Homo sapiens: one gene and its partners. The protein of the gene in region 1 interacts with the protein of each later gene in a pairwise test. Each region holds a gene or a part of one and is shown on either strand. Other genes may lie near its edges.

Region 1 (6,958 bases):
CATTCCTACTCATTGTTCCAGACACAGCTCCAGTAACTCCTCCTCTAGGAAGCCTTCCAGCCTGCCCCAGCAGAGACCTTGTTCTTCCCTGGGCTGTGATCCATCTCCCTCTGGCCCTTTCCTGATCCCATGAAGTTGGGGATATCTCTATCCAGGTCCATCTCCTTAAAGTTGGGGGTTCCTCCAGGACTGGGCCTTGGGTTGAGGTCTCTTAGGGTTCCAGGGCAGCCCAGAACACCAGAACAGGGGGTAGATGGCAATAGAGAGAGGAGACGCTGAGATGGAAATTGATGAATACATGAAAGAAAGATGAAGATAGCTGAGAGGGAAGGAAAGGAGAGGCCAGAGTACTGCAGGGCCCACACAGGAGCTTGGGGATAGCGGAAGTGCAGGCCTCAAATGCACTGCCCCACCAGCTGTTCCAGATGGTACCTGAGGCGTTGATGACAGACCGGATGATGTCGGGGTGGCACAAACTGAGGAGGGGGGAGATGGGTCCCATCCAGACCTTAAAGCCCTGGGGGTAGGTGGCCACCAGCTGAGTCAGAACTCTCATGCCCTCCTCTGTGGGGTTGACCTGCAAGCAAGGCAGGGGTCATTACCTTCTGTGATAGTTAATTCTAGGTGTCTACTTGACTGGGCTAAGGGATGCCCAGGTAGTTGGTCAAACATTATTTCTGGGTGTGTCTAATCTATTCATCCTATCTATCTAATTTTTCTATCTATATATCTATCTGCCTACCCATCTATCCATCAATCCATTTTATCTGTGCTTTCATCCATCCATATATTCATCTGTCTGTCTGCTTATCATCTATTAATAGCCATCTATCCGTCTAATCTATCCATCATATATATCTACTCCATCTGTCTACATAATCTATCCATCCTATCTACTCTATCTACCCATCCATCCATCATCCATCCATCCATCCATCCTATCTGTGCATCCGTGTGTCCATGCATCCATATGTCCTATTATTTGTCTATCTATCTATCCATCCATCCATCCATCCATCCATCCATCCATCCATGCTATCTGTGCATCCATGTGTCCATGCATCCATCTATTCTATTATCTATCTACCTACGTGCCTGTCCATCCATCCATCCATCCATCTATCCATCCTATCTGTGCATCTATCTATCTATCCTATTAGCTATCTATCTATCTATCTATCTATCTATCTATCTATCTATCTACATTCCTCCTGCTCTATCTATCTATCTATCCACATTCCTCCTGCTCTATCTCTCTTGGGTCCATCTCCAAGTCCCAAGGGTGCATCCCAGGGCAGAGGGAGAAGACGCACTGTCCACTCACAGAGGCCCAGTTATCTTGAGAGGAAGGATTTTCTTTTTCTGGGAGTCATTTCAGCCCAGAGGCAGCTATATGGGGAGGTCCTCACAGGGGAGATTTGTGGGGAGCAGTATCGCCTCAGGACATGTCCCTAAGGCTGGTCCCCACATGCCTTCATGTCCTGGCTGATCCACAGAGGCTCCAGTTCCTCCCATGGAGAAGGTTCTGCACATGGGAGACCTTCCCTTTTCAGCAGCCACTAGTGGAGCAGAGGTGACTCTAACTGTCCATCAGGACAATGGCTCCCACCTGGGAGCAGCTTCTGCAGCAGGCTCTGTGCTAGTGTGTCCTGTGCACCCTTCCACTTTATCTGTGGACACATCCATCAATCCTGCCATTTGCAAATGAGCAGACTAAGACCACATTCCCCAAAGAGGAGAGCGGTCTAAGTCAGAGGGCAAGGTCACGGGGAGGAGAAAGGCCAAGGAAAGCTTCTGAAAGGTGAAGTGAGTGGCCAACTTTTATCTGGGTTTGGCAACAGGTCTCATTGATAAGAGGGAGATAAGAAGAAGAATATAAGAGAAAGGTGCCTTCGGGTGTAGTGGAAGTGGGAGACGGCCCATGCCTCTCCTCTGGCCCAGCTGTACCCTCATAACAGGAAATAGTCCAGGCAAGGAGAGGACCCTGGACAGTGGGCATAAGAAGCCTCGAGTCCAGCAATGGAGAATGTGGGAATGCCAGGGACTCGCCTCTCTGTGCAGCCAACCCTCTGCCCAGGAGCCCCGCAGAGGTGCATTAATGTGGGAAGACAGGCAGGAAAAGGATTCAATGCAGGCCTGGAGTGGGAGGACAAGGAAGTGAGAAGGGCTTGCGTAGGCACCTCACAGAAATGAATAAGCAGAGGAATGAGTAAGATGCCTCCTCTGCTTCTCTGCCACCCCAGATCCCAGCCCACCCCTTCACCCCCACTCCCTAAGCCTCGTACCCCTCAGGAAGTCCATCCATCCTGAGACCTAGACCCATCCTGCTGCCACACTCACCATGCCCTGGTGTCCCCAAAACCAGTTCCGTCTTGGGGGTTGTGGGAAACACCGAAGGCGGCGGCAGTTGTCATAGAAGGCGTAGGTCCAGGCCAGGACATGGGCCAGGAGCCAGGAGGCCCCGACCAGCAGGAGGAGCAGCCAAGGGGATGCTGCCACTGGCCAGAGGCCCAGCCAGGACAGGCTCAGCTGGGACATCCTGCAGGGCAGACGGGATGGACGGTGAGATCCTGAGGCCCAGAGAACGGCCCAGGGACCTCCAGGGACAGTGGAGAGGCAGGGACGGGCAGTGCCGGAGGTAGAGCAGGGAGGGCTCAGGGATGGGTAAAAAGGGGCTGAGAGGTAAAGTCCAGAAAGGCCCAACCAAAACCAGCAGCCAAGTGGCCTCCAGTTCCCTAGTAAGCACTTAGAATGGGAAAGAGAGAGAGAGACTGATTAAAGTCCAGAAAGGCCCAGCCTGAATCACTGTGAGGTTGCCAGGGGCTTGGTTTCAGTTACTCGGAAACCACCCATCCTCCAGGCCAGCACCCAGGAGCTGCGTGGGCCTTGGGCAGTGCCCCTCTCCATCCCAGGCCAGGACCCCCCCCAGGCCTGCCACCCCCAGCCTGGCACCTTCTGTCAGGAGCAGTCTGTCCCAGACAACCTCCTCTCTCTGTCTGCTGGGAGGCCTTTGACCCTGGCCCTTGATATAGCAAAGGCTGTGGGAGGGCTGGCTGGGTTGGGCTGGGCCAACCAATCCCTGCAGCCTGGATGTGTCTCCTGAGCCTGGGCAGCCAATCAACACCTGGCGTCAGGCCAGCTGGGTGCAGAGGAATCAGCTCAGGGTCCAGATGGATGGGTAGATGCACAGATAGATAGAGTAGATAGGATGGATACATTAGGTAGATAGATAAAGTAGATATAGATAATGGATATATTAGACAGATGGATAGATAGCTATTAATAGATGATAGATAGATACATAGATAATAGGATAAATAGATGGAATGGATAAACGTACAGCTAAGATGGATTGATGGATGGATGGGTAGGCAAATATATATATAGATGAGAAATTAGATAGATAGGATGAATAGATTAGATAGACACACCCAGAAATAATGTTCCATCTCTGTCCCAGATATGTGGGATCCTCATTTGTGACATGGGAACTAGGGATCTTGGATCACTCCAATCACTCCAGATGCTACAAGGCCAGTGACTTACTCAGTATGATGCTGAGGAACATGACCATCAGAAACAGGATCAGAGTCACTCTCAAGCAAAAAAAAAAAAAAAAAAAAAAAAAAAAAAAAAAAAAACTCCAAGGATTAAATGATTTTTCCCATTGTCCTGGGGAGAAATTAATCCAAGGGAGGTCACAGGAGGGCAAATAATTCCCCATCACCACCACCACCACCATGAGCATACCATCACCCATGGAGTTTTCTGATTTACTCTTTGGCCCATTAAGCGTGAAATTTCTTATGCTAGGTTTCTTTCTGATAAGGGAGAAGAGATTAGTATCTCTACATTTCCTCTCCTCCTGCTACCTAGTCTCTGTATTCTAGGTTAAATTATAATTTATGTTGAGGATTTACAATGGCTGATACACCTAGCTGAGCCTTCTGCACAGAGATACATTGGGAGTGGAGGTTAATTGGGTCAAAGGAGAAATGCCATAAGCCCACACTCCAGCCTATCAGGGTGGATTAAAGGTCTGATTTGCCCAACTCTTGTCACACCTGCTCCCACTGAGAGGTGACAGCATGCTGGCAGTCCTCACAGCCCTCACTCGCTCTCGGCGCCTCCTCTGCCTGGGCTCCCACTTTGGCGGCACTTGAGGAGCCCTTCAGCCCACCGCTGCACTGTGGGAGCCCCTTTCTTTTCTCTTCTTTTCTTTTTTTTTGGATTTTTTTATTATTATTATTATACTTTAAGTTTTAGGGTACATGCGCACAATGTGCAGGTTAGTTACATATGTATACATGTGCCATGCTGGTGCGCTGCACCCACTAACTCGTCATCTAGCATTAGGTATATCTCCCAATGCTATCCCTCCCCCCTCCCCCCACCCCACAACAGTCCCCAGAGTGTGATGTTCCCCTTCCTGTGTCCATATGTTCTCATTGTGTAGGGACATGGATGAAATTGGAAATCATCATTCTCAGTAAACTATCGCAAGAACAAAAAACCAAACACCGCATATTCTCACTTATAGGTGTAGGAGCCCCTTTCTAGGCTGGCCAAGGCCAGAGCCGGCTCCCTCAGCTTGCAGGGAGGTATGGAGGGAGAGGCGCGAGTACGAACCGGGGCTGCGCGCGGCACTTGCGGGCCAGCTAGAGTTCCAGGTGGGCGTAGGCTTGGCAGGCCCCGCACTCGGAGCAGCCGGCCGGCCCTGCCAGCCCCGGGCAATGAGGGGCTTAGCACCCGGGCCAGCGGCTGCTCGGGAAGGTGTACTCGGTCCCCCAGCAGTGCCAGCCCACCGGCGCTGCGCTCGATTTCTCGCCGGGCCTTAGCTGCCTTCCCGCGGGGCAGGGCCCAGGACCTGCAGCCCGCCATGCCTGAGCCCCCGGCCTCCGTAGGTTCCTGTGCAGCCCGAGCCTCCCCGATGAGCGCCGCCCCCTGCTCCAGGGCGCCCAGTCCCATCGACCACCCAAGGGCTGAGGAGTGCGAGCGCACGGCGCGGGACTGGCAGGCAGCTCCACCTGCAGCCCCGGTGCGGGATCCACTGGGTGAAGCCAGCTGGGCTTCTGAGTCTGGTGGGGACGTGGAGAACCTTTGTGTCTAGCTCAAGGATTGTGAACGCACCAATCAGCGCCCTGTCAAAACAGACCACTTGGCTCTACCAATCAGCAGGACATAGGTAGGGCCAGATAAGAGAATAAAAGCAGGCTGCCCGAGCCAGCAGTGGCAACCCGCTCAGGCCCCCTTCCACATTGTGGAAGCTTTGTTCTTTCACTCTTTGCAATAAATCTTGCTGCTGCTCACTCTTTAGGTTCACACTGCTTTTATGAGCTGTAACACTCACCGCGAAAGTCTGCAGCTTCACTCCTGAGCCAGCGAGACCACGAACCCACCAGAAGGAAGAAACTCCGAACACATCTGAACATCAGAAAGAACAAACTCCAGACGCGCCACCTTAAGAGCTGTAACACTCACCGCGAGGGTCCGCGGCTTCATTCTTGAAGTCAGTGAGACCAAGAACCCACCAATTCCGGACACACCATTGTCTGAGTAAGTTTGGGTGCCAGGACTATGAGGTCGTGTGAAGACTTCCAGCCCCATACCTGCAGAACAGTCTGCAGCTCACTCTGCTCTGAACTGCCCCAACTTTGCACAGATATTCTCCATTCCTCGAAATGAAACTGTATCCTTCAAAGCTCACACATTTCGCTTATTGGCTCAGCGTAGGGAGCAAGTTCTCTAGATAGCTTACTACCAAATAAAATGGTGGAGAAGGGAACCCAGGCAGCTGGGCACAAAAAAGGAATGAGCAACAAGCTTCCTCTCTGAACATGATTTTCTGTGTAAGGTCTTGGACACTCCCTCGACTGCTTCCAGCCATCTGCCTCATGCTAGGTTTCTAGTTAATGTGGAATGAAAACTCTCACATCTTCCTTCTAGATGTAGCTGTGGTAATTGCAACTTAGGCAGTTGTGCTTGAGAATCTTCTTCTTAATACCACATGGCAAGGTCATTCCCCAATGCTTTTATTTACCTTCACTTGAATTTTTATATTAAACATTGGATTGAACAAGAACGGAGAAGAGAATCACAATTATTGTGTAGATGCTACATTGTAGTTACATTTTCTCTTGTAATTATTACAGTGCTGGGACTATTCGAGCTTTAAAATCCTTTCTGAAGATCCTAAAGCTACTCAGTGGTTCTGCTGGCATTAGGGGTTGATATGGTTTGGGTCTGTCTGTGTCCCTTCCCAAATCTCATGTTGAATTGTAATCCCCAATGCTGGATGTGGCGCCTGGTGGGAGGTGTTTGGATCATGGGGGCGGATCCCTCATGGCTTGATGTGGTCTTCGTGTTAGTGAGTTCTTGCAAGATATGGTTATTTAAAACTGTGTAGCACCTGACCCTCTCTCTCTTGCTCCTGCTTTTGCCAAGTGATGTGCCCGCTCCCACTTTGCCTTCTAACACGAGTAAAAGCTCCCTGAGGCCTCCCCAGAACCAGATGCCACTATGCTTCCTGTACAGCCTGCAGAACCGTGATCCAGTTAAACCTCTTTTGTTTACAAATTACCCAGTCTCAGGTATTTCCTTTTTTTTTTTTTTTTTTTTTGGTCTTAAACTCCAAGCCTCAAGCAATTCTCCCACCTTGGCATCCTAAAATGCTGGGATTACAGGCATGAGCCACCATACCCAGCCAGGTATTTCTTTATAGCAACACAAGAGTGGCCTAATACAGAGGGATATTGCCAATGATTTAATAGTAGTCTTCTTTTCTGTATGTCACTCTGCTTGACTAACCTTAAACAGTCTCTTTAAATAATTTGTAAGATTCACCTAACTACACTTTTCATATTGTCCTTCAATCCTTGCACTTATGGCATAAACATGTTTTATGATTATTATATAGGTATTTAAATAATGCATATGGGTCCTATATTTCTCTATCAAT
Region 2 (7,023 bases), on another chromosome or scaffold:
GACCAGCCTGGCCAGCATGACAATACCCCGTCTCTACTAAAAATGCAAAAGTTAGCCGCGTGTGGTGGTGCGCCCAGCTACTCTGGAGGCTGAGGCAAGAGAATCTCTTGAATCCGGGAGGCAGAGGTTGCAGTGAGCCAAGATCACGCCACTGTGCTCCAACCTGGGCGACAGAGTGAGACTCTTTCAAAAAAATAAATAGGGCTGGGCGCGGTGAGTCAACACCTGTAATCCCAGCACTTTGGGAGGTCGAGGCGGGTGGATCACCTGAGGCCAGGAGATCGAGACCTTCCTGGCTAACACGGTGAAACCCCGTTTCTACTAAAACGACAAAAAATTAGCTGGGTGTGGTGGCGGGTTCCTGTAGTCCCAGCTACTCGGGAGGCTGAGTCAGGAGAATCGCTTAAACCTGGGAGGTGGAGGTTGCAGTGAGCCAAGATTGGGCCACTGCACTCCAGCCTGGGTGACAGAATGAGACTCTGTCTCAAAAATAAATAAATAAAACTTTTAGTACATTTTTTCTGTAATAGGTAAATATAGATAGTAAGCTTTTTCTATAATAGGTAAATATAGATAGTAAATACAGATAATGAATATTTTAGGCTTTGCAGGCCATACAGCCTCTCATAACTACTCACCTCGACCTTTGTAGCATGAAAGCAGCCACAGATAGCAGGTAAACGAATATGATTGTGTTTCAATAAAACCTTATTTGTGGACACTGAAAATAGAATTTCATACTGTTTTCACCAGTTATGAAATATACATTTGATTTTTTTTCCCCAACCATTAAAAAATCATTCTTGGCTGGATGCAGTGGCTCACACCTATAATTCCAGCGCTTTGGAAGGCTGAGGCAAAGGATCTCTTGAGGCCAGGAGTTTGGGACCAGCCTGGGCAACATAGACCCCCTATCTCCAAAAATAAAAATAAGTTAGCTGGGCTTGGTGGTGCACACTGTATTCCCAGCTACTTGGGAGGATCACTTGAGCCCAGGAGTTCAGAGACTGCAATGACCTATGATCACGCCACTGCATTTCAGCCTGGGCAAGAGTGAGACCCAATCTCTAAAAATCATTCTTAGCTCACAGGGCATAGTTTGCCAGCTTCTGTGCTAAGCAAAAGAGGTCAAACTCAACCAGACGCGGTGGCTCACGCCTGTAATCCCAGCACTTTGGTAGGCTGAGGTGGGCGGATCACGAGGTCAGGAGATTGAGACCATCTTGGCCAACATGGTGAAACCCCGTCTCTACTAAAAATACTGGGCGTGGTGGTGGGCGCCTGTAATCTCAGCTACTTGGGAGGCTGGGGCAGGAGAATCTCTTAAACCAGGGAGTCGGAGGTTGCAGTAAGCCGAGATCATGCCACTATACTCCAGCCTGGGTGACAGAGCGAGGCTCCATCTCAAAAAAAAAAAAAAAAAGATCAGACTCAACAAGTACATACTCAGTACATAATTGGACTCCAAGAATGTGATTCTGTTTACATGATAATCTGAAAAAGGCAAAACTTACAGGGACAAATCAGTGATTGCCAGGGTGTTGGATGTGAAGGGAGGGGTTGGTGTTCCACATCTTTACCCACACTTTGTATTATCAGGGTTTTGTTTTTGTTTTTAGCCATTCCAAGAAGTATATATTGGTACATCACTATAGTTTTAATTGGCATGTCCCTAATGACTAATAATATTGAGGATCTTTTCAAGGGCTTATCAGCCCTTTATGTATATTTGGTGACATGTCTCTTCAAATTCCGCCCCCCACCACTCCTCCCTTTTTTTTTTTTTTGAGACAGGATCTCACTCTGTCACCCAGGCTGGAGTGCAGTGGTGCAGTCATGGCTCAGTGCAGGCTCCACCTCCTGGGCTCAAGCGATCCTCCCACCTCAGCCTCCAGAATAGCTGGGACTACAGGCCGGCAGCACCATGCCCAGCTAATTTTTGTTGTTGTTGTATTTTTTGTGGAGATGAGGTTTTGCCATGTTGCCCAGACTGGTCTCAAACTCCTGAGCTCAAGCAATCCACCTGCCTCGGCCTCCCAAAGTGCTGGGATTACAGGTGTGAGCCACCATGCCTGGCCAGATTTTCCATTTTGGAAGATACTTTCACTGGATATAGAATTCGAGGGTCACAATGTTTTTTCTTCTGTTAAATAGAAACACTTCTACCGCCAGCTCTTAGTGTACAAGATCGGGTAGTCAGGAGTTCCGCTGGGTTTGGACTTTGGTTTTGCTCTGGTTACCTTCAGTGCATCACCAGCTTCATATTCCCTCCGGTGTTACCATGTGCTGTTTTCTCATTTCCATAGTTTGTGACGAGGTCTGCTGTATCTTTGTTCCTTTTTATGTGTCTTCTCTTTCTGAATCTTTTCAATATTTTGTCTTTGGTTTCTAGCCGTTTCAATATTATATACATAGGTATTTATTTGATATTTATATATGTAGGCATTTGATATTTATCGTGCTTTTGGGTTCTCTGGGCATCTTGGATCTGTGTTTTCATATCTTTTATTATTGTTGAAAAATTCTCAGCTGTTACCCCTTCAGCTATTTCTTCTGCTTTGTTTTCTCCCTCTTTTCCTTCTAGGATTCTAGTTATACTTAGTTAAATGGTTTAATATTGTCCAACAGCTGTTGTGGGGGTTTTGTTTTTTGTTTTTTTGAGACAGTCTTGCTGTGTCACCAAGGCTGGAGAGCAGTGGCGCAATCTTGGCTCACTACAACCTCTGCCTCCTGGGTCCAAGCGATTCTTGTGCCTCAGGCTCCTGAGCAACTGGGACCACAGGCACGTGCCGCCATGCCTGGCTAATTTTTTTGTATTTTTCACAGAGACGGGTTTCACCATGTTGGCCAGGCTGGGCTTGAACTCCTGGCCTCAAGTGATCCGTCTGCCTCAGTCCCTTAAAGTGTTGGGATTACAGGCGTGAGCCACTGTGCTCAGTCTGTCCAACAGCTTTTGGGTTCTCTGTTTTGTGTTTTTTATTCTTTTTTCTCTTTGTGCATCAGTTTGGGTTATTTGTATTAGATAATATCTATTGACCTGTCTTCCACTAATTCTTTCCTTGATGATGTCAAATCTCATGATGGGCCTGTTGAAACCATTCTGCATATCTGCTACTGTATTTGTTTTTAGCATTTCCATTTGACTTTTGGAGTTTCCAACTCTGCTAGAATTTCTCATCTGTTCATACATTTTGTCTGCTTTTTCCACTGGCGCCTTTAATATTAGTCATAGTCATTTTAAATTCCCTGTCTGATAGTTCTAACATCTGGGTCATCCCTCAGTCTGCTTCTGTTGATTTCTTTGTCCCTTGACAGTGTGTTGTTTTTTTCTTCTTTTGTGTATATGTCTCGTAATTTTCTCATAATTGTATTTATGCTTACAATTGGGGATGCTTCTTCTACTTTACTGTTAGTGTGGGGATCAAGTCAGTGAGTTGGGAGGTAAGCTCAGCTTGGGTTGTTTTTGCTTTGGTTACCTTCATTGCATTACTAGTGTCTAGCGTTAACGTGTGCTTAGAGTGGAAGCTGGCTCTGTCGCCCAGGCTGGAGTGCAGTGGCACCCTCTCGGCTCACTGCAACCTCCACCTCCCAGGTTCAAGCGATTCTCCTGCCTCAGCCTCCTGAGTAGCTGAGACTACAATCACGTGCCACCACACCTGGCTAATTTTTTTTTTTTTTGAGACGGAGTCTCACTCTGTCACCCAGACTGGAGGCAGTGGCGCGATATCGGCTCACTGCAAGCTCTGCCTCTTGGGTTCATGCCATTCTGCTGCCTCAGCATCCCGAGTAGCTGGGACTACAGGCGCCCGCCACCACGCCCGGCTAATTTTTTGTATTTTCAGTAGAGACGGGGTTTCACCGTTTTAGCCAGGATGGTCTTGATCTCCTGACCTCGTGATCCACCCGCCTCGGCCTCCCAAAGTGCTGGGATTACAGGCGTGAGCCACTGTGCCCAGCCTGTGTCTGTGGTTTTATACACTCATGCTAGCCCACACTTGGCTTTTAACAATTCATTGCAAATTTTAGTGGCACAGGCCTGCAGTCCCAGCTGCCCTGGAGGCTGAGGCAGCAGGATCGCTGGAGCCCAGGAATTCTTGGCTGCAGTGCTCTATACCAATCAGGTGTCTGCTGTAAAGTTGGCAACAGTATGTTGACCTCTCAGAAGCAGGGGACCACCCGATTCCCTAAGGAGGGGTGAACCAGCCCACGCTGGAAATGGGACAGGTCGAAATTCCTGTGCTGATCAGTGGTGGAATTGCACCTCTGACTAGCCACTGCAGTCTCCCCTGGGCAACATAAGGCTGGCCCTGTCTGTATTAATTTAAAACAAATTTTTTTGGCTGGGCGTGGTGGCTCACGCCTGTGATCCCAGCACTTTGGGAGGCAGAGGTGGGCGGATCACAAGGTCAGGAGACCAAGACCAGCCTGACTAACACAGTGAAACCCCATCTCTACTAAAAAAAAAAAAATTACAAAAAATCAGCCGAGCGTGGTGGCGGGCGCCTGTGGTGCCAGCTACTCGGGAGGCTGAGGCGGGAGAATGGCGTGAGCCCAGGAGGTGGAGCTTGCAGTGAGTCCAGATCGCACCACTGCACTCCAGCCTGGGCGACAGAGTGAGACTCGTCTCAAACAAAAAAAAAAATTTTTTTAGCTGAATTCCTTTTACCCATTTGTATGATGTCCAGTGTCTCTTCTTCCTGTGCCTGCCACAGGTGAGCAAGTGCATGGCTCTCGTTTCTCCTTTGAAGGGCCTCTTTTTCCTTAGGTTTCGTCTGTTGGGTTGCCTCGTGACCTCAGTTCTCTGATATCTTTGAGAAAAGTCATAATATTTGTAATTTATCTGGCTTTTTCTTGTTGTTACAGTGAGTGCAATATTCTTTCCAACTTTCTACTTTCTTGGGGGAAGCCAAAACCTCTTTGATCTTATGTTGATTGTCACATGAAAACAGAGCCCTCACTAGATGCCAGGCCCTGTGCTGAGTAAGGGAGAATCTGACTTGGTTTTGAGGAATTCTCTCTCCTGGCGTCGTACCTAGTGTTGGTGGAAGGGTAATTCTGGAGCACATTGCCTCGGCTTTGGCAGTGGGAGGCTTTGCTTGTAATTGGCATCTTAAATAAGTGTCCCAAGGGTGTAGAGAAAGGTCAGGGGGAGCAGCACACTGCCAGACCCACTGCCGTAGACTGAGGCTGGCCTTCTCATTCTTCTGACTCAGTGCCTATGTTGCCCGTTCACTGAAATCTGGTTCTTTAGGCTCATGACAGTTCTGTGTGCCTCCAATATCCTTCCAATAAATTCCTTTTTGCTTAAGTTTACTAGAGTTATTAGTTTCTGTCTCTTAAAACTGAGGACCTCTAACTGATAGACAAAGGAGAGAGCTTTTGTTTCAAGAGATATATACATTGCAAGGGAAAACACAATGTCTGGGGAACAATGGAATTGCCAAATGCAAAGCAAAATAGTACAGCCAAGATTGTGCGGGCCAGGGGTCAGCAAACTTGTTCATAAAGGACCAGATAGTAAGTATTTTACTTGTAGTCATATGGTCTCTGTTGCAAGTACCCAATTCTGCTGTCATAACACAAAAGGAGCATGGGTAATATGTAAACCATTGGGAGCAGCTGTTCCAATAAAACGACTTGCAAATATAGGCTCACACAGTTTGCCACCCCCTGGTATAGGCTAACATCGTGTATATTTAGAAGAAGGATGGAGACAGTCTATATATCCATCTGTGGTTCTTGGCCAGTGTTTCGAGTTTTAAGATTCTCATACCTGAGCATTGACTGACTATGGCATAATTTTTTCTGCCCACTCTTCTCTTGCAGAAGCTAAACCAGCCCCAGAAATATTTGAAAATGAAGTCATGGCCCTGCTGAGAGACTTTGCTAAAAACAAAAACAAAGAGCAGAGACTGCGTGCCCCAGATCTTGAGTACCTCTTTGAAAAGCCACGTTGAGCTGTGCTCCACGGCCTGGCATGGGGGTTCAGTCTGTGGATGGTAACTACTTATGATGGACGTTAGCCTTGCTTCCGGCTTCTTAGATGCCCAGCTGCCCTACCCCAGACCACTGGTCCTGCCTCAAGTGATGGACATAACCCTCTCCTAGGACATACATGTAAATGCACAATGTGACTCATTCTCATACTTTTTTGTTCAGCTCTGAGCCTCAAAAGTGATTTGTCAGCAGCGCTGGCATGCAGGCTTTGCCTGGCTGCTATCTCTAGAGGCAAGTCTGCCACGAGAGGGCACTGCAGGCGAAGCAGTTGTGCTTGCTCATTGCCTCAGCCCAAGTGTACTCAAAGAAAAGAGGCAGCCAGCTGTGCGTGCTGTATGGAAAGCCTCCCGCCCTCCCTGCAGCTCCCCGCCCTCAGTGGCCCAGGGCTTTGTTGAAGTGGAACTCCCCACTTCCAACCTGGTATGGCTCCTTCTGCGAAGGGAAGCTGATCCCAGCCTCCTGAGCTGAATCCTTCAAAGGCACAGCAGGCAGAATGAGGGCCACAGGCAGGAGTGGTGTGGGCACACTGCTTAGGAGTCAACATCTTCATCATTGGGCTTTCTTTAAAACGTGCACTTTGTAATTTGAAAGAGAATTATTAAAGCATACTGAAAAAAGGAAATTTACAATTTCCCAGCCCTCACAATTAATTTTAATTTTGTCTATTTTCATATAACCCATAGTCATGTTTATAGAGTTTTACAAGTTCACAATTACAGGTTTTATTTTCATGTAGCACTATAGAAAACTTTCCCCCTCATTCCTACAGTCTTCACAATTAGTTGACTAAATAATAATACATAAGAAATAATATATTAGAATGAATTAGTTAGAAGTGTTTTTAAAAGCTCTAGGGCTGTGTGACTTCTGTGTTGCTAGTGGTGCCCTCCCTGGAGGGGTTTTGCCCTCAGAGCTGTAATCTAGGCAGTAGAATCAGTCACCCAGACTGGACCAGGTGCATCTAAAGGTGTTGACTAGAAGAAGGTCGGCCAGATTTGATGAGCAGGTGGTTGGTGATTATAGGAG
Region 3 (7,870 bases), on another chromosome or scaffold:
TAGGAGAGGGGAGGGGTGCACTGGGAGGGTGTGGGTAGGAGAGGGGAGGGGTGCCCTGGGAGGGTGTGGGTAGGAGAGGGGAGGGGTGCCCTGGGAGGGTGGGGGTAGGAGAGGGGAGGGGTGCCCTGGGAGGGTGGGGGTAGGAGAGAGGTGGGGTGCCCTGAGAGGGTGGGCGTAGGATATGAAGCAACAGTGACTCCTACCCCAGGGGCCCAAGGGTCCTGGGGCAGGGTGGGGTCAGGAATCGGGAGGGATGGGGTGTCTCTTCCCCCATCAACCCTCTGGCTGACAGGCCACCGGACTCCTCAGTCACAGCAAGGAACCTGTCCTGCTCCTGGGAGCAGGGCGCCTGTGGAGAACGGCCCCCTCACAGCCTGCCCACACTGCTGCGATGTCCCCGCATGTCTGCACATCCTCCCTCCGAGACGGTCCCATCGTGCAGTGCGGGGCTTGCAGTGTGTAATTCTGTGTTGAGGCAAATTAACCACCCAGGGTGTTAACAACTCACAACTTTAATCCACTGCCCACCCAGATGTCTGACCGGGGCCCAAGGAAAGATGGGTGTGTGGTTGGCCTTTCAAGCGGGTGCTCTAGATCATGGGGCCAGGAGACGCCGTTGTGCAGGAATGCATTTAGTGCCTTCAAATCACGGCACCTCTGAGAAAGCACCGTCTACACACTTCAGCAACATCAACCCCCCTGACGATCTCTTCTACAGAAAACGTTCCCATCAGAAAAGTCTGTTTTTTTTGTTTTTGTTTTTGTTTTGTTTTTTGTTTTTTTTTTGAGACAGAGTTTCACTCTTGTTGCCCAGGCTGGAGTGCAATGGCGCGGCCTCAGCTCACTGCTACCTCCGCCTCCTGGGTTCAAGTGATTCTCCTGCCTCAGACTCCTGAGTAGCTGGGATTACAGGTGCACACCACTACGCCCGGCTAATTTTGTATTTTTAGTAGAGATGGGGTTTCTCCAGGTTAGCCACGCTGGTCTTGAACTCCTGACCTCAGGTGATTCACCTACCTTGGCCTCCTAAAGTGCTGGGATTACAGGTGTGAGCCACAGCGCCCAGCCCAGAAAACTCTTAAAGGGGAAACTAAAAATGATGGACAGCGAGGGAAAACTACCAGCTGGAGCATGGCTTTTGGATGAGTGGAATTCAGAGCCCTGGCTGTCCGCCAATCAAACACTAAAAGCACTTGCCGCACTGCGGCTTCGTGTGAATTTCACCCCTCCTCCTGACTTTATTCCCCTAGAAATTATAACATTTGGAGAAACCCTTCCAAAAATGTGAACCAGGAGGTTAGCAAAGAGGTGGCCTAATTTGATATCTGAAGAGACAAGCAAGATCAGAAGGTAAAACCTTAAAACCAGGCTGCTGGGGAGTTCCTTGTTCTGTCCTGAGGTCCTAGCTAGGTGAGCACGTCATCGGCTAGATGTCCAGGCAACAACAGAAGTGATCGGCTCAATTCCATGGAGGAAGAGACCGCACATTCTCTACATCTGTGTCTCTCCCTCGCCACCCAGCAAGGCTTTTCTTTCATTCTTCCTTCAGTCGGATATTTATTAAGTGATCACTACCTGACAGACACTTGGGGGGCTAGGGATATAACGATGAAAAAGATGTAATCCCTTTCCTTGAGGAGCTTAAAGTCTAGTGGGGACACTGCTGACGCAAAAAGCAATTCTTTTTTTTTTTTTTTTTTTTTTTTTTTGAGACACAGTCTCGCTCTTGTTGCCCAGGCTGGAGTGCAGCGGCATGCTCTTGGCTCACTGCAACCTCCGCCTCTCGGGTTCAAGTTATTCTCCTGCCTCAGCCTCCCAAGTAGCTGGAATTACAGGCATGCACCACGCCCGGCTAATTTTGTATTTTTAGTAGTGATGGGTTTTCGCCATGTGGGTCAGGCTGGCCAAAAAGTAATTCTAATCAAGTGTGGTAAGAAATAGAGCAGACATGAGCAGGGCGGGAGAGGGCCTCTACCCCAGTAATGTCAGGTGACTATCAGGTGATGGCCAGGCGGTTGTTACACTGTCTTTCTAAAATAATATTGGTCACAGCCAGCGTTGGGAAAGACAGTCTCCCAATAGATAGAAAATACCTGAACTTGGTGATCAGCAGCTTCCTGGTAAGAGCTCAGGAATTGGGCGAGTGGGCTCAAGCATCTACACTAAGAAGCAAAATGGTGGAGTTTAGCTGGTGTGTGTGACCTTCCTCTAGTGCTGCTCCGCGGGTAAGGGAAAAACGCCTCAAGTGAGCATGCGCACGACTTCAGTAAACACACTGCGCATGCGGCCCCTCCCAAGTGCCTGTGCGGCAGGCAGGCGCCAAGTCAAGGGTCTAACAGCACATTTGGGTGTCTCAAGTCACGCACTTGGCCCTTTTCCAAGTGTACTTTACTTCCTTTCATTGCTGCTCAAAAACTTTTTAATAAACCTTCACTCCTGCTCTCAAACTTGCTTCAGCCTCTCCCTCTGCCTTAAACCCACTTCTGCCCCTCAGCCGAATCTCTCCCCCGAGAAGGCAAGGATTGAGTTTGCTGCAGACTCGCTGGATTCACAGCTGGTAACAGTAAGTACCAGGCAGGGGCATCCAACTTAAGGTGTCATGGAAGCACATGGAGGAACCTAATCCTATCTGGCAGAAGCAAAACGAAGCTTCCCGGAGGAAGGGCTGCCCATGCCCAAACTTGATGGACGATGAGATACTAGGCAGGAAGAGTATTCTAGGTGCAAAGGCCAGAAGTTGACAGACTGAGGCAACAGGAGAAGGTAAGTGAATGGCGCAAAGTCACACAGACGCCAAGCTGCAGAGCCAGGCTCACTGGAGTGGAAGCGTGCACTCTCATCTGTGAGGCTAGGCTGTTCCCTGGCCGTCACCTCACCCTTTCATCTCTGCTTACCTGCATCTGGTGTCAAGAATCAGAATGGGAGAGACAGAACCTGGAGAAAGGCTGCGTCTTCAGAGTGGGGCTCCACTCCTCCAGCTCCAGGGCTGGACCTGAAGGTTGTCTTTCCAGGACTCTTTCCAGGAGGGCCAGGGAGGCTCTGTATATACGTAGAGGTCACCCAGGCGTGTGTGTGTGCGCGCCCCCACGCCCCTGCCCACAGGCCTGCATTGAAGGCGCTTCCGCTCCCCGGAGAGCCCTGTCCTGATGACCCACCCTCTGCTCATTTTCATGTGATTCTAAGGCAGGAAACGGGAGACATGGCCTCATGAGCTCCGCTGTCCTGATGAGTCACTGGATGCACCCGTGAGAAACACCTCACCCTCCGCTCTCCCCAGGCAGCAACACTTGCCACACCCCAGCTGTTCCTGTCCTCATCTGCCACCCCGCGAAGAATTTCGGCTCTTTGACAGAACAGCACCGAGCAGGGCAGCCACCCCTTTTTCCTCATCACTCTCCTTACCTTGCCCTTGGCTGACTCGATGTGTTGCATGGTTCCTGTACTAGACGTCTAACTTTTTTTTTTTTTTTTTTTTGAGACAGGGTCTCACTCTGTCACCCAGGCTGGAGTGCAGTGGCATGATCTCGGCTCACTGCAACCTCCGCCTCCCACACTCAAGCAATCCTCCCACCTCAGCCTCCTGAGTAGCTGGGATTACAGGCACCTGCCACCATGCCCGGCTAATGTTTGTATTTTTAATAGAGACGGGGTTTTGCCATTTTGGCCAGGCTGGTCTCGAACTGCTGACCTCAGGTGTTCGCCTCAGCCTCCCAAAGTGCTGAGATTACAGGTGTGAGCCACCGCACTCAGCCTCTTGTTCAAGCCCCAGGCCACTATCATCTTGTACCATACTCTCACCAAATTGCTGAGGATTTTGTGGTGCTCTCTGTGTGGGAGATCCGTGACCCTCTATGGACAAGCTCCTATTCAAGATTCAGTTCAAACATTCCCAGTGAAGTCTGCCAGGATTTCTTTACTCCGAGTTAGGTACTTCTTTCTCTATGCTCCCATTGCATTTTAAACATCTAGATATTATATACAGTAAAGTGCACAAATCTTTTCTTTTCTTTTTTTTTTTTTTGAGACGGAGTTTCACTCTTGTTCCCAGGCTGGAGTGCAGTGGCACAATCTCAGCTCACTGCAACCTCTGCCTCCTGGCTTCAAGCAATTCTCCTGCCTCAGCCTCCCAAGTAGCTGGGATTACAGGCACGTGCCACCACGCCTGGCTAATTTTGTATTTTTAGTAGAAACACGGTTTCTCCATGTTGGTCAGGCTGGTCTCAAACTCCCGACCTCAGGCGATCCACCCGCCTCCGCCTCCCAAAGTGCTGGGATTACAGGTGTGAGCCAGCACGCCCAGCCTAAAGTGCACAAATCTTAATGTTAAAGTCTGATGAATTTTTACATGTATACCCTGGTGAACCAGCACAGAAATCAAGATACAGGACATTCCAAATCCCCAGAGGTTTCATTGTGTCGCCTGTCATTCGTATCCCTTGTCCCCAGTGTTAACTTTCATTTTGGCTCTTATAATAATTGATTAGGTTTTAGTTGTTCTTGAATTTCACATAAATGGAATCAAACAGTTTTCTTTAAAAAAAAAAAAAAAAAAGGCGGTTTTGCTGTGTCATCCAGGCGGGAGTGCAGTGGCACAATCATGACTCACTGCAGCCTTTTGCCTTCATAGGCTCAAGTGATCCTCACACTTCAGCCTCCTGAGTAGCTGGGACCACAGGCAAGCGCCACCACGCCAGCTGATTTTTTAATTTCGTGTACAGATGGGGTCTCACCATGTAGCCCAGTCTGGTCTCGAACTCCTAGGCTCAAGTGATCCTCCTGCCTCGGCCTCCCAAAGTGCTGGATTACAAGCGTGCGCCACCGCGCCCAGCCCAGTATGGCTTTTGTGTGTGGCTTTCTTCACTCAATATTCTATATGTAAGATTCATCCATCATGTAATTTATTTTTCTTTTATTGCTGAGTATTATTACATTGGATATTACAACTTTTTCTACTCTTAATGGACATTTATATTTTCAACTTTTGCCTGTTATAAATAATGCTGCTATGAATATTCTTCTGCATGTCTTTTGAAGGAACTATGCACTAATTTTTCCAGGGAATATTCTTAGGAGTAGGATTGCTATCATAGGGCAGGTGAATATTTAATTTTGGCAGATATTGCCAAACAGATTCCCAAAGTAGTCCTAATTTACACACCCACCAGCAGTGTGTGACAGTTCCAGTTTCTACACATTCTCACAAACATTTTTAATTTTAGGCATTGTGGTGGGTGTTTAGTGTAATCTCCTTGTGTTTGAATTTGCATCTCCTTGATGAGTAAGCACCTTTTCATATACGTATTAGCCATTTGAAGATCCTCTTTGAGAAGTTCCCGTCCATGGTTTTTGCCCATTTGTTATGGGTTATCTTTTTTTCTGTTTTCTGGTTCATTATAATTCCAGGTATGAGACCTTTATCAGGTAAATTTATTGTGAATGTTTTCCCCCAGTTTGTGGTTTGACTTTTTACTCTCTTTATTATGTCTTATTTTATTTTATTTTATTTTATTTTATTTTATTTTATTTTATTTTATTTTATTTTATTTTATTTTATTTTATTTTTTGAGACAGAGTCTAGCTCTGTTGCCAGGCTAGAGTGCAGTGCCACGACGATCTTGGCTCACTGCAACCGCCATCTCCCGGGTTCAAGAGATTCTCCTGCCTTAGCCTGCCGAATAGCTGGGATTACAGGCATGGGCTGCCACGCTCAGCTAATTTTCGTATTTTTAGTAGAGACAGGGTTTCACCATGTTGGCCAGGATGGTCTCAATTTCCTGACCTCGTGATCCACCCTCCTCGGCTTCCCAAAGTGCTGGGATTACAGGCGTGAGCCACCCCGCCTGGGCTTACTTGAAGAGAAAGTACTGATTTTAATTAAGCTCCATTTATGCATCTTCTTTTATGGTCAATATTTTTGTGTCTGCTTAGGAAATCTTTGCCCACTTCCCACTGGAGTGTGACTCACTTCTTACTCCACCGCTGTGAGGTCCTTGCAGGCAGGGACTAACTCTTACTCTGCTCTGTATATTCTGAGCCTCACACAGAGCTTGGAACATGGTAGAAGCTCAAGAATGACTTGATGAATGAATTAATTCGTGCAATGCATAATTCATGCAACACAGTCTCTGCACAGAGATTTTACTTCCAGTGATGAAAACAAACGATTACTGAGGAAACCCCTGATGCACATACATGAGAAGGGATCGTTATGACTGGCTATCACAGTTCCATTTTTAAAAATAAAATTGGAACTCTTCATTAATTTTCGTGTCATCCTTGCACGGGAACCACGTTAAACTAATCTGCATCGTCCCAATTTTAGTATATGTGTTGTCAAAGCAAGCACAGTTTAAGTCTTCTAAACTGTTTATGAGCTGCTTTCTATATAAGAATTTCTGTTTTTTTTTTTTTTTTTTTTTTTTTGAGACGGAATCTTGCTCTATTGCCCAGGCTGGAGTGCAGTGGCGCAATCTTGGCTCACTGCAACCTCCACCCCCAGGTTCTAAGCGATTCTCCTGCCTCAGCCTCCTGAGTAGCTGGGATTACAGGTGCCCACCACCATGCCTGGCTAATTTTTGTATTTTTAGTAGAGACGGGGTTTTGCCATGTTGGCCAGGCTGGTCTCGAACTCCTGACCTCAAGTGATCCACCCGCCTTGGCCTACCAAAGTGCTGGGATTACAGGCGTGATCCACTGCACCTGGCCAGCAAAAGAGATTTCGCATGCAGTGTCTGTTAGAACATCTCATATTTAGGCAATCAGAATAACTGAATGGCTGATTGCCGTATATCACTCAGATTTTTTTTTTCTCTCGATATGGGGTCTCGTACTGTCACCCGGGCTGGAGTGCAATGGCACAGTCTTGGCTCACTGAAACCTCTGCCTCCTGGATTCACTCGATTCTCCTGCCTCAGCCTCCCCAGTAGCTGGGATTACAGGCTCACACTGCCACACCCAGCTAATTTAATTTTTTAATTTTCTAATTTTTAGTAGAGACAGGGTTTCACTATGTTGGCCAGGCTGCTCTCGAACTCCTGACCTTGTGTTCCGCCTTCCTCGGCCTCCCAAAGTGCTAGGATTACAGGCGTGAGCCACCACGCCTGGCCTAGCACTCAGATTTTTAGATGATATCTCCATGTCCAACCCAATGGCTTATGTAGATATCATTAAAATGTTGCTTGTGGGACAAAGGAAAGTGCTGGAATTTGTTTTTAATCCCTTAAAGTGTCAAACTTAGTGTGGGGCTGGTGATGGCAGCTGTGGGTTTTTGCTCCTTCGGGTAAACTTGTGATGATTAATTCAATGATTATCTTATGGACAAGACACTTCTTTCTTTTTTTTTTTTTTTTGAGACGGAGTCTCGCTCTGTCGCCCAGGCTGGAGTGCAGTGGCGCGATCTCGGCTCACTGCAAGCTCCACCTCCCGGGTTCACGCCATTCTCCTGCCTCAGCCTCCCGAGTAGCTGGGACTACAGCGCCCGCCACCACAACCGGCTAATTTTTGTATTTTTAGTAAAGACGGGGTTTCACCGTGTTGGCCAGGATGTTCTCGATCTCCTGACCTCGTGATCCGCCCGCCTCGGCCTCCCAAAGTGCTGGGATTACAGGCGTGAGCCGCCGCGCCCGGCTGAACAAGACACTTCTTTAAGAAATCATGTACTTGAGATAAACGGGTCTCGTAAGGCTAGCGTTGGGACTATCTCTTCATTTCCATGTGGCGAGCCTCCTAGGGCAACAGAGGCACGGTCGCTGCCATGAAAGCACTGAAGCTTCACCTCTTTGAGACGTGTTAATAACCGCGGAGTGTGGCTCTACTGGAGATGGAGCTACTTGCTGTTACTTTGTCGGTGATGCTCCTAGGGAGGAGCAAA
Region 4 (7,367 bases), on another chromosome or scaffold:
GAATGGAGAACATATCTAAACTGGGCTTCTCTATTGAACCAACCAGCCCAGAGACCACAGAATGAGGCTGCAAGACAGAGAGGCCTCCACAGCTCTTGCACACCAACACTTCCAATCTGATCTCCTGCTTTGTCCTCTATTGCTGCTTCCACCTATTCCCCAAGTATGCCCTATGCTTTCCTTCCTTTACCCATTTTGCCCCTTGCTTAGAACGTCCTTTCCTCGTTTCTGTTAAAATACTGACATGTCAACATACCATTTCCATTGGTAAGAGCTTCTGGCTTCCCTCTGTTGGAGATAACTGTACCCCCTCTGAATTCATCAGCCATCTCTGATAACCTATCTTATAAAGCTTAGCAAGTTCTACGTTGCTTTTGCCCCAGCTTGCTACATTTACTAAAGTATAATACATTCTCCTCACTATTCAGCTCACAACATCTGGAAGGGGACCTTACACAGAACAGGGCTCAATTCGCAGGTCAGATAAAAAGAGTAAACATAATACCCAAGATTTTAACCAATACCTGCCATAGCAAAACACTAGGAAGCTTCATTTAGACAGCTCTGCAAAGCATGATTCAATTTCAAAATTACAGAAAAGATTGAGGTTGACAGAACAATTCTTGCTACCTAAAATGATGTTATTTCTATGTCAGAAGCAACAAAAAAGGTCCAGATGTCCCAAGCAGACAATGCTGAGAAAAGAATCGTGGTCACTTAAACAGCAGGTTATTTGTTGAAGGGTCCTGAAGGCCCAAGTAGTTTCCACACAAATAGGTTTCATTTCAGCTGGATTTTTTGGTCACTTTGGATATTTTTGTGCCAACTTAATATGTTACGGAGAGCTTTGCCCTACCTTTGCTAATTAACAGTACAATAAACAGCAAAAGGAAGGTCACTACTGACAAACTTTGAATATAAAGTGCAGTGAGCTGGGTTTTAGGCTCATGGTTCCCGCATGTGGAGTTGAATATATGGCCTTTGCTTCCCTTCAGAACCCACAGAGAAAGGGTGAAAAGCACAAACATCAAACAAGTGGTGAATACACAGATCAGCAGCAGCCCCAGGTTTAAAGCGCTTTCATCAAGCCCCAGCCATAGGGAAGAAATACTTCAACAGCACCCTAAGGGAAACAAAAAACTGAATTATGAAACGAAACATTAAAAAAGCATCAGCGGTGTGTCTTAGAAAAATTACTAGTGAGATTTAAGTCACAGCCCCCCACTTTCCCTCAAAAGTGCTTTCTAATAATACAGAGCACATTCCAAATAGCTTCCCTCTGCCAAAAACTTGCCAATTGTACCTCCCCTGCTCAGCAACCAGGGTGAAAAAAATTCAACGCCAGGAGAACCTTAATGCCTTCATTTTTGAAGTAAATTCCAAACATTTATCTTGCGGGGCATTTATCCACAGGGGGAGTAGCTCCTAAATGAATTAAGGAAGTGAATATGACCTTTAATAGATAATTTGGTTCCCAACTGGAAAGCAGGAGAGGAAAAACAAAGAGGAGAATGGATAAAAAAGGATTCAAATGAAAAAGTTGGAAAAACAGAGGAGAATGGAATTTACTTGGGAAAAGAATGAAAGCTGAAAGGCAATAGAAAAAGCATAAAAGCAAAAGGAGATGCCATCTAAAGACAAATGCTAGATAAGCAAAGAGGGCAGGGGTCGCTAATAAACCTTTCAGAGTCCAGAATTACTTAACTCTAAATATTATCTCACTGTAACTTGACGATGGTCTAGGTTCCAGGCTGGGAGCCCCAGAAAACGAAAGGGGCTAGCAGTGGAGAGGCAAGGTGGGACAGTGCAGGAAAGCAGAGACCCTCGTAAGCTCAAGAAGCAGCATCAGGTTAGGCTGGATCAAGGAAAGAGCTGGTGCTCAGCTAGGTTTCTGGAAGTGCTGAGAGGCAACAACCACTTGGACTGACTGGTCCGTGGCCTATCAAAGATTCCACGTGCGCTCGAGGGAGACTAGAGTGACACCCCCTCCCCCCCGACCCTCCCACCTCCCGGGAGAGCCTTGGAGGCTGGACCAACAAACAGATGGGCTCTGGAGGCCAGAGAAGTGGAGGATTCTCTGACCCTGGGAGACCAGACGGGGACCCCGATGGGCAAGAGGCACGCAACACCCAGGGTCAAGGGCGGTGACAATGGGATCCCGGGCGCCCTTCACGGAGCCCGAACTCACCGATGCCGAGTCCCACGACCAGGCGGCCGGCGAGCAGTGTCTCCTTGTTGTTGGCCGCAGCCAGCACCGCGGAGCCGGCGGTGAAGAGGGCACTGGCCAGGAGGATGGCAGCGCGGCGGCCGAAGACGCCGTTGAGGGCGCCTCCGGCCAGCGCCGAGACGGCAGCCGCCCCCACCGTGCTGGACACCAGCAGCTCCTGCCACAGCGCGTCCAGACTGAGCTGCCGCTTGAGCAGCAGCATGGCCCCTGACACCACCCCGGTGTCATAGCCAAACAGGAAGCCGCCCAGCGCGGAGAAGACGGCCACCACGTACACGAAGGCGGGGGTCTCGTCCTGCTGGAACTGCCGCCGCGCCGCGCGCTCCAGGTCCCCGACGCCGCCGCCGCCCGCGCCCGCGCTCTGCAGGCTGGTGCTCGATTCGGCGGCAGCCAGGAGGCTGCACTCCCCGGCCGCGCTCGCCGCGTCCGGCTCCGGCTGCTTCCTGCGCCGCTCGCCCATCAGGCTGCTCAGGCTCCGCAGCGTGTACTCCACATTCTCGCTTGCCTTGCGGGACATAGGGCAGGGGCCCGGGGCTGCCCGGGGGGACGCGGCTCCGCGGGCCGGCAGTCTCGGCGAGCTAGACAGCCCGAGCCGGCGGGAGCAACCGCCGCTGCCGCCGCTTTCTTCCTCCCGGCTTCCGCTCCGGCTGCCACGGCAGCAGCCGCCGCCACGGCCGCTCCGGGGAGAAAGTTGCTGCCCGCCGCGCTCCGACGCTGCGGAGTTGGAGCCCGGCGGGTCTCACTCCACACTCACGCCCCGCGCCTGCCGAGCTGGCGCTGCGGAGCGGGCGGGAGGCGGGACCGCGGGTCACGTGCAACCCCGGGCCGGCGGGGCGGGGCCCGGGAAACGTCCCGCCCCCTCCTTGGGCGGGGCCAGGCTCAGCCCGCCCCGGACCCCTAAACCCCGCCCTCCCGGTGGGTGCGACCTCTGACCTAGGCTCCCTCATTTAGGGCTCTGGCAACCGTATGGAATTAACCCTGCCTTCCGAGCTGCAGCGGTGGAGCAAGCCAATGTGGCGATGCCATCAGGCAACAGGCTTCCAGACGGGAAGCCACCCAGAATGTTTGCCGTGTTTGGAGAGGAGGGAGAGAGCACCTAAACCAGCCTCACTGTCCTTCCAGCAGCCTAGAGAGAGGGCTGGAAAAAATATCCTAGAATAGGACCTAGCAAGTACCCTTCCTTTTATAGTATTGTGACATTACCCAGCGTGGTCTACTTCCCTGGCATTAAATGTGTTTGTTCTGGAGCAATTCAGGGCTGCATGCTCCCATTTCTATAGCTAGTTTCCACTCTCATCGCCAGTCCCTCCTCAATTTATGCTTATTTTAAAGGAATGGTACATTTGATTCTTTGAGGACAGAGAACATATCTCTGTGGTGAATCCCAAACCCTCCTTCCATGGATCCCCGACCTGTAAAAGAAAATTCACATATATGCATTCCACTCATGTAACGGGTAATTCCCAGAAATAGAAAGAAAACTCAAGACCCTGATTTGTGATTCGGCAGGCAGTCTCCATTTCCCCGCCCCAACATGCTAACCAAAAGGTAGGATAGCTTCTCTCCTGAGAATCCCCACTGTTGCCCTCCATGAGGCACTGTTTTAACAGCCTCATTTACTTGAAACAAAGCAAAGATAACGTTATTTGCAACCAATTTTTTAAACTGTTGAGTGAATTAACAGTTGTTGGTTCATTTGGGGTTTGTTTCCCCCTTTAATTTAAATGTTTTTAAAATATACAGTTGCGCATCAGGGGCTAAAGATAGTTTGTTTTGTTTTGTTTTGTTTTTGAGACAGATTCTCGCTCTGTCGCCCAGGCTGGAGTGCAGTGGCGCTATCTCGGCACACTGCAGCCTCCGCCTCCCAGGTTCAAGCGATTCTCCTGCCTCAGCCTTCCTAGCAGCTGGGACTGCTAAAGATGTTTTGTGCCTCTAATTTGCTTTCATTCTTCAGGCTGAGGGCAAAAAGTCAAGCATCATATGATTCTATTCCTACAATTCCACTGCTCTTTTATTTCCCTTATTTGAGCAAAAGCTTTCTTAGCCTGGGGCCTATTTTTCATGCAGCTATAACTTTTTTCCTTTCAGACAAAAGGATTTTGTCATTCCTGTTTCAGTAAAAACTTATATTAGAATTTGTCAAAACTGCTTTCGTTTTGATTATCAGTCACGATTATCTCTACAATATAGTACTTTCCTTGCCAGCAACAAGGAAAAATAAACTAATGAAGCCAGACGGCTTAACTATTTAAATGTTATCGTCTGGCTTTAAAGCAAGGCTCTACCGTCATTCCCAGGCATCAGTTAAACAGAGAGAGCCTTTAGATCTGCAGCAATGAACTCTTTAATATTCAGACCTCGGACAATATTGCAGGTGAGAGCGCGCCTTTTCCGCGGCATGCTACGGTATAGTAAAACTGCGCCCCCTGGTGGTGAGCCAATTCCCACGGCTTCTGAAGAGAAGGGCTCCGCAGATGAGAAGCATCTGGTTCTTTGACAGTTCCCTCTTGCTGAGATGAAAATAAACTACTTTTTGTCTCAGCTGGTGCAGTGAACATCTTGGTTCCTGAGCATTCCTTGCTTGAAATTCAGCTTTGGGGTCATAGAACAAGAAACTACTTTAAAAATTCTGTTCCGTATTAGGACAGTTATGTATCTGCGGTCAGGTTACATTTTAAAAGAAATGTGACGTGAAAAAAAAGGCATCGGAGGCCGGGCGCGGTGGCTCACGCCTGTAATCACAGCACTTTGGGAGGCTGAGGCGGGTGGATTACGGGGTCAGGAGTTCAAGACCAGCCTGGCCAACGTGGTGAAACCCTGTCTCTACTAAAAATACAAAAGTTAGCCGGGCATGGCGGCACGCGTCTGTAATCCCAGCAACTCGGGAGGCTGAGGCAGAGTATTGCTTGAACCCAGGAGGCGGAGGTTGCAGTGAGCCGAGATCGTGCCACTGCAATCCAGCCTGGGCGACAGAGCGAGATTCCATCTCAAAAAAAAAAAAAAAGCTTCGGAGAGTTAAACAGAATTCGTCTCAGCCTTGAGAGGGAGTCCAGTTCAACTTAGCATCAGCGCGTGAGTCTAATATGGAGTTCCCCAAAGTCGGCCCCAGCTGCGGTTTATGATGAACTGGAAAACCCATGGGCTGAGAATCAAAAGAGATGAATGTCAACACCACCATTGTTTTACCGTAAAACTTTCCACAAACCACAAGATTAGCTTGTGCTTTGCTTTTTTTTTTTTTCTCTCATTTGAAGAGCAGATAATGGTGCAGCAACTACTCATTGACGAGAGTGTTAAAGGGTATTTTTGAAATATAATTAATTGCTATTGCAGGGCAAATTTAATTACAAGAGTCATTATTGGTTTGCAGTGAGTTCTATAGTTCCAGCTTTGAGGATATTTGCTTTACAACCTCCAGTAACATGTTCCAAAGCAGTCTAACAATAAAGAAAGGCGAAAAGCCCCTTCTCAATCGTCTTTCCCACCATAACAGACCCCTTTGGCCAGAGATAACCACCTCTACCACTTTGAAATATATCTTTCCAGAACTTTCTCTATGAATTTATATGCATATGTATGTACATGGTAAAATACATATATATATATTGTTGTTTTATTTGTTTGTTTTTGAATTGTTTTGGATGCAAGAGATAGAGAATCGAGATCAAACTGGTTTAAGCCAAAATAATGGGAAAGAGGGAGTACTTATTGTCTATTGTCTCTGAAAACTCTCTAATAAGTTGGCGTCAAGTGCAGTTGGATAAAGGACTAAAAACACCAGGATGTCACACAGACGTCCATTTCTCCACTCTGCTTCCTACTCCTTAGGCTCCATTCTTAAATTTTATGTGGTGCTCAAAGGGCTGTAGCAAACTCCAAGCCCTATACCTGAGATAGTTTGGATATTTGTCCCCATCAAAATCGCATGTTGAGATGTAATCCCCCGTGTTGAAGTTGAGGCCTGACAAGACTAGTTTAGATCCTGGGGGTGGATCCCAAATGAATGGCTTGGGTCATCTCCTTGGCGATAAATGAGCTCCTTTTGAGTTCACAGGAGATCTGGTCCTTTGCTTTCACCGTGTGATGTGCCTGCTCCCCCTTTGCCTTCCGCCATGATTGTAAGCTTCCTGAGATCTTTCCAGAAACAGATGCCAGTGCTGTGCTTTCTGTACAGCCTGCAGAACTGTGAGCCAATTAAACCTCTTTTCTTATAAAATATCCAGTCTCAGATATTTCTTTATAGCAAGAACAGCCTAATATAATATCCTTTTCCACTCATGTCTGAAAGGACAGAAAAAGAGCCTCTTTCTCCAAAGCCCTAGCAAACTTATATTGTATGTAATTGGATTTGTCAGTTGTGGTACCATTCCTGCCCCAGTTACTGCAGCTGGGAGATTACAGTTTGGTGATCAGGCTGGGGCCAATCAACACCCACATCATGAGCTGTGAGTGAAGGTAAATTACATGGGCTTAGACTATAGGAGGTTTTCCCATAAGAAATGTGATGTGCTATTTTGCCAGAAGTCAGGCGAATAAATGCTGGCAATAAAACCAATATATTTGAGTTGCCATAAGTAATTAGTAAGTTAACATGGCATAAAAGCCAAGTAAACCATTTCAAGAAGGAAGAACTGGCTAAGAGAATCAATTATATTACACAGAGATCAAAGAGAATGAAAACTCATGGAAAATCTTTGAATTTTATTATAGAAAGTCAATGAAAGACCAGATGCAGTGGCTCATGCTTGTAATACCAGCACTTTGGGAGACCGAGGTAAGTGGATCATCTGAGGTGAGGAGTTCAAGACCAGCCTGGCCAACATTGTGAAACCCCATCTCTACTAAAAATATAAAAATTAGCTGGGTGTGGTGGCGCATCCCTGTAATCCCAGCTACTTGGGAGACTGAGGTAGGAGAATCATTTGAACCCAGGAGGCAGAGGTTGCAGTGAGTCAAGATTGCACCACTGCACTACAGCCTGGGCAACAGAGAGACTCTGTCTCAAAAAAAAAAAAAAAAAAAAAAGAGAAAGTCAATGAACGGTGACTGTGAAGAATCAAAATGTTATTTTGATGGTATTACCTTCATGAAGCCTAGTAATGCCAGAATCCCATCATTTTGATTATTCCTCATCTCTGTA

What was found.
Region 2: the proteins of CYP4F2 (region 1) and SDHAF2 interact in binary tests that used the Homo sapiens proteins (3 or more experiments, as listed by UniProt).
Region 3: the proteins of CYP4F2 (region 1) and TM4SF19 interact in binary tests that used the Homo sapiens proteins (3 or more experiments, as listed by UniProt).
Region 4: the proteins of CYP4F2 (region 1) and SLC2A13 interact in binary tests that used the Homo sapiens proteins (3 or more experiments, as listed by UniProt).

What each region holds. Positions count from the first base shown.
Region 1 is NC_000019.10:15,895,074-15,902,031, forward strand, and holds the start of CYP4F2 (cytochrome P450 4F2 precursor), read right to left. Parts: upstream 3,002-6,958; 5' UTR 2,953-3,001; intron 2,540-2,952; 5' UTR 2,539-2,539; coding exon 2,341-2,538; intron 578-2,340; coding exon 433-577; intron 1-432. UniProt on the Homo sapiens protein: A cytochrome P450 monooxygenase involved in the metabolism of various endogenous substrates, including fatty acids, eicosanoids and vitamins.
Region 2 is NC_000011.10:61,440,115-61,447,137, forward strand, and holds the end of SDHAF2 (succinate dehydrogenase assembly factor 2, mitochondrial), read left to right. Parts: intron 1-5,826; coding exon 5,827-5,957; 3' UTR 5,958-6,619; downstream 6,620-7,023.
Region 3 is NC_000003.12:196,335,370-196,343,239, forward strand, and holds the start of TM4SF19 (transmembrane 4 L6 family member 19), read right to left. Parts: upstream 3,020-7,870; 5' UTR 2,895-3,019; intron 1-2,894. UniProt on the Homo sapiens protein: Negatively regulates vacuolar (H+)-ATPase (V-ATPase) activity by interacting with members of V-ATPase V0 complex and hence inhibiting V1-V0 complex assembly. Required for multinucleation during osteoclast differentiation.
Region 4 is NC_000012.12:40,103,065-40,110,431, forward strand, and holds the start of SLC2A13 (proton myo-inositol cotransporter), read right to left. Parts: upstream 3,018-7,367; 5' UTR 2,745-3,017; coding exon 2,189-2,744; intron 1-2,188. UniProt on the Homo sapiens protein: H(+)-myo-inositol cotransporter. Can also transport related stereoisomers.